2 linked regions of the Homo sapiens genome follow. The protein of the gene in region 2 interacts with the protein of the main gene of each other region in a pairwise test. Each region holds a gene or a part of one and is shown on either strand. Other genes may lie near its edges.

Region 1 (7,026 bases), on a different chromosome or scaffold from region 2:
ATTCAGAGGACTCCTGCTTTGCCTACATTCTGCTGTTATTAAATCACAGCTGTGGCTTTGGGAAACTAATTCATTAGGCCAATACAATGCTGGAATGCACAACCAAGAGAAGTTCTGGAGTCTGACCCTCTGTTGATACTTTAGAAGAGAAGGGACAAGCATGTGGTGTGGTGGATTCAGTTCTTTCCTTGGCTGATCACTGAGGGCTGACCAGATGATCTGGCCTGGCTTTACATCCTGTTTGCTGCCATGTTGCACATGATGGTCATGACCGCACATTCACAACCGGATTATTTACACACAGGCTGGTGAGGGGAAAGGGAGGCAGCTGACGGGCAGAACTGAAGGACTTACGCATCGCCTGCACTAATGGCCATAATTTTCTGGATGCCCCCGGTGTTTAGAAGGTCGCGTGCATTCTGGTAACTGTTTTGGATTATGTTGTTCAATGTGTAACAGGCAGAGGCTGTAGTTTCAATGAGAAGGTCAGTACTCGGGACTGTGTCAGGAATGATGGAAACCAAATCAGGGAGAGTTTCTTTGGCTACAAAATGAAAAAAAAAACAAAACACTTGATTAAAAAGATTGTTTCTTAATCCCAAGATCCCAATATATTTTGGGTGAAGAACATTCTTTTTCTTTTTTTGAGACGGAATCTTGCTCTGTTGCCCAGGCTGGAGTGCAGTGGCACCATCTTGGCTCACTGCAAGCTCTGCCTCCCGGGTTCACGCCATTCTCTTGCCTCAGCCTCCCGAGTAGTTGGGACTACAGGCACCCGCCACCACGCCTGGCTAATTTTTTTATTTTTTTATTTTTTTTTATTTTCAGTAGAGACGGAGTTTCACCGTGTTAGCCAGGATGGTCTCGATCTCCTGACCTCGTGATCCGCCAGCCTCGGCCTCCCAAAGTGCTGGGATTACAGGCGTGAGACACTGCGCCCGGCCAAGAACTTTCTTAAAAAGAAACACAGCTGGTTAACAACACATGGAAAGATGTAATTTCCCTAATAACAAATTTTTAAAAATATTTGAAAAGAGGATACTCTGTGCTCAGTATATTGAAAATCTTTTCAGAGTGTAATTTGGCAGAAATGTCAAGAACTTAAAACATTTTCATCTTCTTCAATTCGGTAATTCCATGTCTAGGAATACATCTTAAAAATATCACTTTGAAAATGAAAAAAGCTTTCTACAGAGATCTTTATGACAGTACTACATGTAACTGAAAAACTAAAAAGCCTGAATATCCTTATAATAGGACTATGATTAACTAAAACACACCTGCAAAGACTATTATTCATCACAAAACCTATCTATGAAGCATGTATAATAAAAAGAAAATAATTATGTTAATAGTGTATGTGAAAAATCAGTATATTTATATAAATAATACATAATATTATTGGCCAGGTTCGGTGGCTCACACCTGTAATCCCAGCACTTTGGGAGGCTGAGGTGGGTGGATCACTTAAGGTCAGGAGTTCAGGACCAGCCTGGCCAACATGGTGAAACCCTGTCTCTATTAAAAATACAAAAATTAGCTGGGCGTAGTGGCACATGCCTGTGCCTGTAGTCCCTGCTACTCAGGAGGCTGAGGCACAAGAATTGCTTGAGCTTGGGAGGCAGAAGTGGCAGTGGGCAGAGATCACGCCACTATTCTCCAGCCTGGGCAACAGAGAGAGACCCTGTCTCAAAAAAAAAAAAAAAAAGAATACATACTATTACCAAAAAACCCACGTAAGAAACCTGAGGAAAAATGTTAATAGGAGCTGTTTTTCTACAACAATATTAATAGTGAACTAAAATCTTTTTTTTTTTTTGAAACAGAGTCTTGCTCTGTCACCCAGGCTGGAGTGCAGTGGCGCGATCTCGGCTCTCTGCAAGCTCCGCCTCCCGGGTTCATGCCATTCTCCTGCCTCAGCCTCCCGAGTAGCTGGGATTACAGGTGCCCGCCACCACGCCGGGCTAATTTTTTTGTATTTTTAGTAGAGACGGGGTTTCACCTTGTTAGCCAGGATGATCTTGATCTCCTGATCTTGTGATCCGCCCGCCTGGGCCTCCCAAAGTGCTGGGATTAGAAGCGTGAGCTACCGCGCCTGGCCAAGCTAAAATCATTTTTAAGGCCAGGCAAGGTAGCTCATGTCTGTAATCCCAGCACTTTAGAAGGCCGAGACAGGAGGATCACTTGAGCCCAGGAGTTTGAGACCAGTCTGGAAAATATAATGAGACCCCGTCTCTATTTTAAAAAGTAAAATTAAATAGTAAATAAATAATAAACGAATAATCTTTGCTTCCCAAGGTTTTTCCAATACATAAGTAATACTACTCTTGTTTTTTTTTTTTTTTTGGAGATGGAGTTTCGCTCTTGTTGCCCAGGCTGGAGTGCAATGGCACGATCTCATCTCACTGCAACCTCCGCCTCCCAGGTTCAAGCAATTCTCCTGCCTCAGCCTCCCGAGTAGCTAGGATTACAGGTACGCACCACCATGCCCGGCTAATTTTTTGTATATTTTTTTTTTCAGTAGAGATGGGGTTTCTCCATGTTGAGGCTGGTCTCGAACTCCTGACCTCAGGTGATCTGCCCGCCTCAGCCTCCCAAACTGCTGGGATTACAGGCGTGAGCCACTGCGCCTGGCCTACTATTTTAAAAAGAGAAATAAACTATTTTAAATGTACTTTTCTACTATGTATATAACTTCTTGGTTATAAGTTTTGAGTTTGGCTTTTTTTTTTTGTACTAACAAGAAAGGTATTAAAAAAATAGACATGCCACTTTCACAATTAGGCTATAGAAAATAAAAAAGATACATAGACCAATGGAATAGAATAGAAAACCCAGAAATAAAGCAAAATACTTACAGCCAACTGATCTTTGACAAAGCAAACAAAAACATTAAGTGGGGAAAGGCCACCCTATTCAACATATTCAACAAATGATGCTGGGATAATTGGCAAGCCACATGTAAAAGAATAAAGCTGGATCCTCATCTCTCACTTTATACAAAAATCAACTCAAGATGGATCAAAGATTAAATCTGAGACCTGAAACCATAAAAATTCTAGAAGATAACACTGGAAAAACTCTTCTAGACATTGGCTTAGGCAAAGAGTTCATGACCAAGAACCCAAAAGCAAATGCAACAAAACCAAAAATAAGTAAATGGGATCCAATTAAACTAAAAAGCTTCTGCACAGCAAAATAAATAATCAGCAGAGTAAACAGACACCCCACAGAGTGGGAGAAAATATTCACAAACTGCATTCGACAAAGGACTAATATCCAGAATCTACAAGGATCTCAAAAAAGCAAGAAAAAAGCCAAATAATTCCATCAAAAAGTGGGCTAAGGACATGAATAGACAATTCTCAAAAGAAGATATACAAATGGCATAAGAAAAATTTTTTGATACGCCTCATACATATGAAAAAATGCTCAACATCACTAATTATCATGGAAATGCAAATTAAAAGCACAATGAGATACCACCTTACTCCTGCAAGAATGACCATAATTTAAAAATCAAAATTTAATAGATGTTGGCATGGATATGGTGAAAAGGGAACACTTCTACACTGCTGGTGGGAATGTAAACTAGTACAACCACTATGGAAAACAGTATAGAGATTCCTTAAAGAACTAAAAGTAGAACTACCATTTGATCCAGCAATACCACTACTGGGTATCTACCCAAAGGAAAAGAAGTCATTATATGAAAAAGACACTTGTACATGCATGTTTATAGCAGCACAATTCACAATTGCAAAATATGGAGCCAACCTAAATGCCCATCAACCAACGAGTGGATACAGGAAATGTGGTATATACACACCATGGAATACTACTCAGCCATTAAAAAGAAAGACATAATGGCCTTTGCGGCAAATTGGATGGAATTAGAGACCACTATTCTAAGTGAAATAACTCAGGAATGGAAAACCAAATATTGGATGTTCTCACTTATAAGTGAGAGCTAAGCTATGAGGATGCAAAGGAACAAGAGTTATATAATGGATTTTGGGGACTTGGGGGAAAGGTAGGAAGGGGTGAGGGATAAAAGACTACACATTGGGTACAGTGTACACTGCTCAGGTGACATGTGCACCAACATTTCAGAAATAATCACTAAATAACTTTTGCATGTAACTGAACACCACCTGTACCCAAAAATCTATTGAAAATTCTTAAAAGGTGTTAATATTTGATAAATCCACTGGAACTTGTCCTATGGTACATATTTTGGTCAATGTGAACTTGTGCTTAAACTTTTTGTAATAGTTATTTTCATGTATGTTTTCCTCTTTTTCCTCTAACCACTTTAGACTCTTCTTAAAAGATAGAGAGCATGCATCTTTTGCTTTTGCTGATCCCCACAGCTTCTGAATACGTGTTGTGTTTATCAGCAATTAACAAATACTGCCTAATTTTATTGTGTGCCTTCATCTGTGTTCATGTGGCATCTTGAAGCACATTTCTCTCTCTATGATACTGATAGTAATGAATTGTGTGACTGTCTCAACTTCAGATGAGGCTGTGGGTTCCTTGAAGCCAATTATCTTACTTATTTCTGTGTTTACAGCGTTGATCATTATTCCTGAAATGGACAAGTACTCAATAAAAGGCACTGAATGATATGTCATCATAATACCTGGACCTGATTGACAGGTAAGACATACCTTTTGCTCACAGGCCTGAACACTTTCCTTTTGACTGTGGTTCAAGCACACAGCATACTGTGGAGAGCTCAGCGTTCATCTAAAGCCAGAGTGCTGTAGTTTCAGTCCTGGTTCTGCTACTTTACAGCTCTATGGCCTGAGCAAGCTACTTAATGTCTCTATTTGTTTTTCCCTAAGTTGCAATGTGGGATAATAATGTCTACGTCACAGGGTTGTTCTGAGGGAACGAGTCAATGCATGTTAATTGTATTGCAGTACTGCGCATGTGGTAAGCTCTCAGTGGATGCTATTATCAGAAGTCTCCCTCCTTTTAGTAAGTTAAACTACAGAATGAAAGGCCTTGACTGGCAAAATAGCACTGTGAGATACAAACCCATGTTTTCTGTGTGAAATCTGTTATTCTGTTACCATGCTCCATTGCCTGTCTTTAAGTTTTTGAGAAAATGTAAGTTTCAAGTTTATTTCTCTAGATGTAAGTAAAACATAACAACTTTATTGCAGGTGAGAACAGGGAAAGTTACCTGGCTTAGAAAGCTCTCATGAGAAACACAAAGCATGTGTTCAAGCTGACTTTCACTTATTTCTTGCTATTAAAATTCTGAATTAAGAGAAGTCCTTTTACTTATATATTTGACATGAAGCCAATCTGGAATTTTAAAATAGCATTTATCTTGCTGAAGCCTCTTTTCTCTGTTATCCTTAAAGTGAAGTTTATCAACAGAATCCTCTAATATAAACCATGTGGCTACAGCTATACCTTCCCGACATTTAGGGGACTGCAGAACCTGAGGCCAACAGCATTTCTGCCCTGAAGGTACATGCTTAATGTGTATAGTGCTGTTATTTACCTTGGTGGTGTTTTAAAGATGGAGTCAATTTTTCATTTGGGAAAAGAACAAAAAAGGGAAAGGATAATACACTGCCATTGAAGTTCAGCACAAAAGACCATGGGGAGAGCATTTTAATAATTCTGAGAGTGCCTATGGCGAGGTCTCTTTCAGATTCACTGAGAATGTTCCAGGCTTATCTCTACTTAGAATGAGCATGAAGCCATTGCATAAAACCTCCTGTCAAATGTGCTGCTGGCTGGCTTTGAAAATGACATTACTAAAACATAACTGCAGCCTTTAATATCTCTGGGGCTATATATGTGCATATTTAAAAATCTAATCCATTAAAACAGGCAAAATATTGTTTATAATTTTTGTGAAATGTGAAAAACCGAATTTGAGTTGTTAGAAACGACCGATTACAGAGCATTATGAAGCATGTTTAATTTTAGCATTATCTTTCTATCATCTCATTTTGTAATTTTCTACTAGATACAACAAACATTTATCACATACTTCTTGGTATAAGCAAACAAATAAAAAAGTACCGTTATCATCTCTGTCAATAATACAGTCAAAGGCAAAATATGTCTCATCACAGTTACTCAAAAAAAATCCATGCCAAATTTGCTATATTCAGTGACTCCTTGTCTTTTTATTGTGATTATCTGTTTATCCATTTTTTTAATAGTCCAACACACTGCCAAACTACTAAAGTAAACCACCACTATATGTGTTTTTCAAATGTTCTAGAATTGTGGTGCTTAAGAGAGCCACAGAGAGAACATTCTGAAAGACAACTATATGGATTAGAAAGACTTCATTGGATGGTGTGACTGAGGGTGCCACCCAGTGAAAAATATCAACAATATTACTTATCTTGTTAATTATTAGTATGCTCTAAAATTTCTCTTTTGTAGTAATTTTTTTTTTAAATGTTGGATATTTAAAAAAAATCTCTGGTGAGATCCACTGAGAAAGCCTGTTTGTGATATCTGGTGGCACAAAAGGCAGGCCGGTTTATCACCTACTCCTTACTCCCATTTCCAGTGCATCTTTGTGAACGGGAGGTGATACAGACAACATTTCATTGCATTGTATCTTCAGCATGTACATATTACACATAGATACTTATACCGACTCACCAATTTCATTCTGCAGAGAAAGATTCCGGGACAGATTCCTCAGCAGCGAGATGGCTGTCTTTTTCACACTTGGGTCACCAACATGCAGCATCTTTCGGGTGTGCTGCAGGCCACTTTCCTTCTGGACAACTGTCTGAGCCACTGATGTCGGCATCTGTTTTGTGAGACATATCCTATAAGTGCTATTGTATTTGATTTCACGATAACATTAAGTTTTCTGTAGATTACCAGAGGTTGATGAAGATGTTTTATTTTTATCTTATTTATTTATTTTGAGACAAAGTCTCTCTCTGTCATTCAGGCTGGAGTGCAGTGGTGTGATCTCAGCTCACCACAACCTCCACCTCCCAGGTTCAAGTGATTCTCCTGCCTCAGCCT
Region 2 (7,775 bases):
AGACCATTCATAAATGCCATTCTGATTTTTAGCATGAAGAAAATACTTACCTTTGAAATGCATAATTACATATATGCCCTAATTCTCTAATCATCATTTTACTATTTGAAGTTATAGTTGATGAAGTCTAGAAAATAGTTAAGGGCTTTTTTAACCTCACAGAAAAATAATGCCCCCAAAAAATCATTGTTCTCAAATCAATTTTGTGACTGACTTGGCCAAAACGCCAAAATCTAAATGATCTCAAATCACATGACTAATCTAAAAAGAAATATATGTCAAAATATGGAGAGTATCCTTCAGATGGGTGAAGATTTTTAATTAAATTCAAGGCCCAGCTATTGTTTTTAAAACCTAGGTAGTTCAAAGACATAGACACTATCTGAAAAAAACAAAAGAAAAGCTATCATTTCAAAAATGTCTATAGGTTCAAAATATATTTTACTTCTTTTTCTTGGCATTTTCTGTTTGTTCCTCTTTATCAAAATAACTGCTTTTTTATTATTTAAATATAAGATAGAGTAGAGCTAGGTTTTCCAGAAACATGTAGGTCAATTTTATGATCAGCTTTCAGCTTTTCTCTGAATTCTAGAGTTACGGGACCCATTACTTGCGAGGAGGAAAGAGAATGGATTAACATCCATATTAAGGATGTGCACTTCTTTTCCAGCTCATCTCAAGTCTACCAGATATACTGTAGCAGTCTAATTAAATAGTTTGTAATTTTACAAAAATCTATGTTAGGCAGAAATCTGGAATTAAAAGGCCACATTTTTATTTAGTCCTAATTTAAAAACCACTTTTTAAAACGTGAGACATTCGTATTTATTTAACTTTTTAAATATGTTCATCCCTAATGCCAAGGAACATAATAAATTATACTTAAAGAACTTTCTAAGCATAGACCATACTGTTAATAGTTGTCTAAGTATACAATGTGGAAACAGCATATTGTAATTAGGCTATGCATAAACACATACATATACATATGTACACATACATATGCATATACCTGTACATATACCTATACCTATATATGTATGTGTATGTGTGTATATATATACACACAGTCATATATTGCTTACATTCTAAGAAATGCAACGTTAGGTGATTTCATCCTTGTGCAGACATCATAGAGTATACTTACATACACTTAGAGGATATAGTCTACTACACACCTGGGTTATACCTACATGGTATACACCATGATTTATATATGTATGCCCCATGGTATGCACCATGGTACAGCCTAGGTGTATAGTATATAGTATAGCTTATTGTAAGCTACAAACCTGTACAGCATGTTCCTCTACTGAATACTGTAGGCAATTGTAAGTATTTGTGTAACTAAACATTTTTAGATATAGAAAAAGTACATTAAAATACAATATAAAAGATAAAAAATGGTTCACCTATACAGACGAGCTCCATTATAATCTATGGGACCACTCATATATGTAGTCCATCATTGACTGAGGCATTGTTTTGCAGAGCATGACTGTATATGTGCGTGTGTGTATATATATATAAATGTACATATATATATATAAATATATGAGACATTCTTATAGTTATATCCACACTTCCACTCCCACCCCCATCTTCTTTCCTTCTTGTCCTAGGATTCCATGTTGATGGTCCTCCCTCTGCAGGCAGAGCCACTGAAGGTTTCCATTCATTAAATACTATTCCCGTCTTCAGGTTAAATCACTGACTAAGTGGCTTAGTGACACCCTTTTAGTCAGTTTCAGAGTCAGAAATAAATAAACAGGAGATGAATTGTCCAAGAGATATTAGACAGTACAGGGATCAGAAGCAAAAGAAATGTGGGTAGAATCCTTTGAAACATTTTTACCACATTTTACCAAACTTGTACTAACTTAAGATGGTATCTGAGTTATCGTCTCCCTAAGCAGTTACAGGATGAGAAGGTGACCATCAACCCTGCATTGTATATTATTTACATGGAGAAAATGTTTGTCCTCATACCTGCCATTTCTAAAAATATATTTTGAAACTCAAGTATTTTGCTAAAATGAAAAAATAGGAAACTCACACCTCAGAAATGATGGACGGATGTGTGAAATAACCCCCCTCTCTTCCCTCACCTCCAAAGAAAAAATAGCACCTTACACAGTTACAAAGCTATTAAAAACCCAAGTGGAAGCCAAGTTGAGGATATTTTCAATGACAGTCACATTTTTGTTATTTTTCTTAAACTATTCTTTGCTTAAACTGCTTCGTGGGTAAAATTCAAAAAGTCCTGGATAATTTGCATGTTCACCCAGAATCCTTTCTCTTTTTTTGCAGCTTAGTAGAACTCAGCATGTTAAATAACATGAGTTTATGTAATCACTGGTAGCAGAAGTAAACCTCAGAAACTTCTGGGCCAAATGCCTAAAGAATGAATTCACTTCTCTACTCTTAGAAAATCACCACAGCAGGATGGAAGAGGGATTCCCTTGAAAACTTTTAACACTCTGGCAGTGGGTGCTTGAGAAGTAAGCTGAACACTTTCCATCCTGAATCCCAAGCCTCTCAACTCTTCCCTGAATCTTCCTCAGATCTGCTTTTGTTTTCCCCAATCTCTCTTCTCTGCCTCCCATCCTCACTCCTAGTCTCTTTCAAGCCCAAACTGCAGAGAGGAAGCAGGTAGTAACATGCTTGAATTCCCTAATCCTTTGGTTGTTACTCACCAGGAGAGAGAAAAGGAGCTGCTTACAGAAGATGCTCCCTGGGGCAGCAGAGGCCAGAGCCATCAGAAGCAGTCCCAATGGCCAGGGACGGTGGCCAGATAACAGGGCAGCCTGGGATGCACAGAGCGGCTAAGAAGACGCTGGCACTTGCACAGGGTATTCTGCTGCCACCTTGATGCAGCTGAGCTTGGTTTGGAAGACAGTCCGGAGGCAAGTGATAAACAGTAGGAGGAGCAACGGGAGAATTTCTTTCCCCCTATTCCCTGGCCAGTCTCCTTCCTTCCAGTTCAATTACGTCTAAATGCAAAGAGGCTTTCCTACAAGTGAGGAGGGTGGGGTACAAAACACCCCAAAACCCAGTCAGTAGCTCCTCCTCACAGCAGCTTTCAAAATTTCTCTTGCCACTTAACACATAGGCAGAAGGAGGAGGGAACACCCTTCATCCTCAGCCCTCCTCCCTTTCCCCCAGGTTGATGCTGTGAAGTCCTCCCCAGTTATTACCCACTCCCACAGCCTCCCCTCCTTCTTGGCCTTATTAACCTGTCTTGCCCTCGGGTACAAACATAAATTGTGCACAAACGCCATGCAAGGAAGTGATGCCTCCTCAACTGCCATTGGCAAATCAGAGGACCTAAGCGTGTGTAATCACACTCATCAGAAGTTATCTCCCATCTAAGCATTTAAGTGTCATCGGTCCTGTAGAACACTGTAGTTCTGCTAGAGAACTGGCATTCCAGTTTAAAGCAGCAACTTCATAAAGGCATGGTATCTACTTCCTGTTATTGACTATTCACTGTGGTTGGTTCTCTAGATGTCACAGGAAACTTATCAGAATGTAAAGACTTCATAAAAGAAAGAGAATAAAGAAATAGCTAGCATATAATCTTTCTTGTGGCTTTCCTTTTGTTGTACAAGATGCCACTGCTTTTTACCTTTATATTTTTTCAAGGACAACTACAATCTTTGAGAGCAAGTCTCTCTAAAATCACTCTATTCACCCTAATTACTTGTACATTACACATAGGATATCCTAGCTTAATAGTACAATCAGGCCATCAAGTGTAGATTTTTTTAAACCCTAATGATTCCTCTAACAAGAGCTTTAGCATCATTATTCCTGTCCCAAATTAGTGAGCTCAGTGATACCAATTGCACTCAATGGCAGTGATGGAAGTTAGGACAGAAGGATAAATATTTTCAAATGTTAAGGTAGAGCCCAACACCCATGCTGCTGAGAAGGGAGGAAAGAAAGGTTTTCTTCAGCTTATTTGACAATGGGAACAATTTCTCCTTGTATGTAGAGACAGAAATAAATGTAACTGCTTCATTAGAATTAGAAGCTAGGAAGATTTGGAAAATGAATGACCCAGGAGAAAAAAAACTAAAAGATATCTTGTAGTATTTTATTGCTAGTGGTATACCCACTAATAAACATATTTTGTGACTGCATTGGAATTTGATTTCTCAATCAGAAAATACAGTCATTTTAATGGAATATTTTTATATCTGGCGTTTTGGGAGAAAAGAATGGGAATATAGAAATAGAAAAATTACTTAGATGTATATGTGTACAGCCAAGTGTAATTCTGTGCATGTTTAAGCATCATCTAAGTATATATTTAGATAGATAGATAGACAGATAAATAGATAGTCATACAGCTTAAATAATTCAAAGACAAATTCTCCAACCCTAGAAAATAGAAACACATTTTTTTCAGCTAATGAAGTTATCATTACCTTTTTCTATAACATGATATTCTCCACTGAACTAGGAAGATATAGAAGAGCAAAATTAAATTGGTGTTACTGAAAAAATGGCATATATTGGTTGGATGAAGAGATTCCAGGCACTGCTCAATTCAAATGAATCCAGAATACTCTCCACAGTTCTGGGAAGTTGATGTTCTGATCCTACTTCTTTTGGCCTACTTTCTGCGTGCTCTCTTTTCCCATTATCTATCTTTCTCAAAGGTAATAGAAAAACTTGTGTAAAAGCTAACCCCAAATTATTGGTTTGCAAATCTGTTACATTACTATTTCTCCCATATTTTGTATTTGCACACAAAGGTTTCCTAAAAATAAAATATAGGCACTTTATAGGAAAAAATAATTTATTATTACAAATTATTGACTCTTCCTTAAACGTGAATCTACCTTAAAATTAAATGAAAACAAGACATATTTCTTCCAATTTTCTGGCATTAGATCATTCAGTAAGAGCTCTGTCTTAGTCTGTTTTCTGCTGCTGTAAAGAAATACCATAGCCTGGGTAATTTATTAAAAAACAAAACAAAACAAAAACAGAAATTTGTTTGGTTCATGGTTCAGGAGCCTGGAAAGTCCAAGAGCATGGCATGGGCATCTGATGAGGGTCATCCCATGATGGAAGGCAGAAGACAGAAGCCAGTGCACAAGACAGACAGGGAAGTGGCCTAACTTATCCAGTTATCAGAAGTCCACTCTGATGATAACTAACCCACTCCCGAGGGTGGGGACTTCATGGCATAATCAACTTTTAAAGGTCCCACCTCCTAACACCATTACAACGGCAACAAAATTTCAACATGACTTTTGGCAGGGACATTCAAACCACTGCAAGCTCTATTTTATTTTTATTTCTATCTGTATGTTTGTTTGTTTTAACCTATGTCTAAATTAATAAGCTTAAGCAAAAGATTGTTAGTGGTTAACAACTTGGACTTAGAAGCTAGACTGCCTGGGTGCAAATCCTCTCTTTACTACTTATTCGCAGTATAACCCCTAGGCAAGTTAGTTAACTCTTCTGTGCCTCGGTCTCTTTATAACATGGGGACAATAATAGTGGCTAATTCATAGGTTGTTATGAAGATTAAATGTGATATTATAAAGAAAATACTTCCAACAGTGTCTGGCTCAGAGCAAGCACTAATATTTTACACCATATAATTGCCTAGGCATGCAATAAAAAGTTGAAGAGACTGAACTTCAAATGAAACAAACACAAAGTTATTGCAAATCCAAGGTCTGTTATGTAGAGGCTACCTAAAGATACATGAATAGGTTTATTCATTGAACAAGTAGTTAAGGGGTTACATACTGGGCTCTGGCCTTTGCTAGGAGAAAAGCATCATATAGGGTGAAAAAAAGAAGACAGAAATCTTATGACGTTAAAATAAAGGCACACTTTATGGTGAAGAACATGCAGTTATCTTTCCAGTTCAAAAGATAAGATAAAAAGAGGCACTGCAGCAAATATTAAATATATTAGCCATTTAAAGAGAAATTAAGAACAATGATTAAATGTTGAGAAACCCCTATAGAAGAAAATATTTTATTTTAAATACATAAGTATTGCATAATCTGTTTTCTACCACACATTTATGGTCATACAGAGAAAGATTTAAATGTAAAGATCCACATGACTCTTGTATTTCTTTAGTTTTTTTTTTTTTAACCTTAAGGCACATCAAGGAAAAACACCTTTTTATAAATTTAAATAATATATTTTATGGAAATACAGTGACAAATTTCATTAGAGATTTTTTTTATGACCAACTTACAGAAAGGGCTCATTATGAATAAATTCAGGGCCTCAAAAAAGCCATTTACAGAGAGAACCATTATCTCTGTAAGATGACCTAATTTATTCTAAAAGACTCCTAGACTGGTAGGAATGCTGTACACATTGATGAAGCCATTACAAGGCACTTTGGGTTAAATATGAATGACTAAATATACCAAAAACTACAGGTGTAAAAAAAGGGTTTGTGAGTTTAGTATGGGTGAAGTGTATGAACAAAGAAAAAGAACTGTTAGCTATTAAAAAAAAAAAAAAAAAAAGCTTGGCTCCCATGAGTTCAGTGTACTGCAGTGGAAACTCCTTCAATCTCACTAGACTCACAGTCTTTTGCCTGGGTAAAGGGCTATTAAAACTTAGAAGTAACTCATGTGCACTAATAATTACTAACAATGATTTCCTAAGGCTGTTTGCGTAGAATAGTGATTAATTTTATATAAAATAATCACTCCCCATTATTATCAAAACTGTTGTCAAACCTATGAAAAGAAACATTAGCACACATCTCTGGGTAGTTCAGAACTCTTTCTATTCAGCCCACATACCTAACTCAAACTGGCTTAAGAGAAAACAAAACAAAATTATTGAGGACAAAAGGATTTGCTAGGTCATGTAACTGGAAGGCTGGGGGTAGCCTAACTCAGATTTAAGCATAAATTCTCTCCATCTCTTAGCTCCGCCTTTTTTTGTGTTGGTTTCATTATTTCAGTTTTGCCCAGTGTGGAGGCAAAGATCACCACCAGAACCTCCAGGATTTCAACAATGAATGGTTTAGCAAGTCATTGTTGAAAGAATATGTCTTGTTCCCAATAGTTTGAGCAAAACACAATCCTTCTGGCCTGAATCTTTTACATAAACCTAAAGTCAAGTGGTGGACCTGACCACATGGGCAAAAAGTGGTGAAGAAGTGACTGCCCAAAGATAACACTAGGCTAGACAGAAAAAAAGGATAAAAAGTAACTAGACAAGCAAATCAACAGATGTCCACTAAACTTACTGTTTCAAATTGTTATTTCAATAATACTAGTTAGTTATTCATCACTTATGTATTAGCACCTCCTGTATGCTGAGTATTACCAGTGGTGCTGATTATACAGAATTGAAGAAGACATGATATCTCCCTTCATGGAGCTTACACTTTACTGTACGGTTTGAAAATTAGTTAAAGTAGTTTCTATGATGTTCAGGATTAAAATCCTGGTGAAATGAATATAACAAATACTTTAGATTTTTTTTTATTTATTGCTATTTTCTCCAATTATTATTTCCTTTGGTGGTCTTCAAAGTTACACGTTTGAAAAGTATTTTTTAATGTGGATGGAATCTTACTATCAATTACTTATACATTAAGAATCACATTATTAAATGTTGATTTTAAGCATGGTAATATATACTCACTAAAGATAATCTTTTTAATATACATGTTTCCAGTCCGGTTTCTGTGTATAGAATTTTTAACATTATTATACTTGCACTATGAATGTAATTTTGTAGCATGCTTTCTCCTAGTTATAAAATCTGTC

Evidence for each region.
Region 1: the proteins of DSC1 (region 2) and PKP2 interact in a two-hybrid assay, tested with the Homo sapiens proteins (one study listed by BioGRID).

What each region holds. Positions count from the first base shown.
Region 1 is NC_000012.12:32,795,755-32,802,780, forward strand, and holds part of PKP2 (plakophilin-2), read right to left. Parts: intron 6,803-7,026; coding exon 6,649-6,802; intron 545-6,648; coding exon 355-544; intron 1-354. UniProt on the Homo sapiens protein: A component of desmosome cell-cell junctions which are required for positive regulation of cellular adhesion.
Region 2 is NC_000018.10:31,159,836-31,167,610, forward strand, and holds the start of DSC1 (desmocollin-1 isoform Dsc1a preproprotein), read right to left. Parts: upstream 3,022-7,775; 5' UTR 2,760-3,021; coding exon 2,697-2,759; intron 1-2,696. UniProt on the Homo sapiens protein: A component of desmosome cell-cell junctions which are required for positive regulation of cellular adhesion.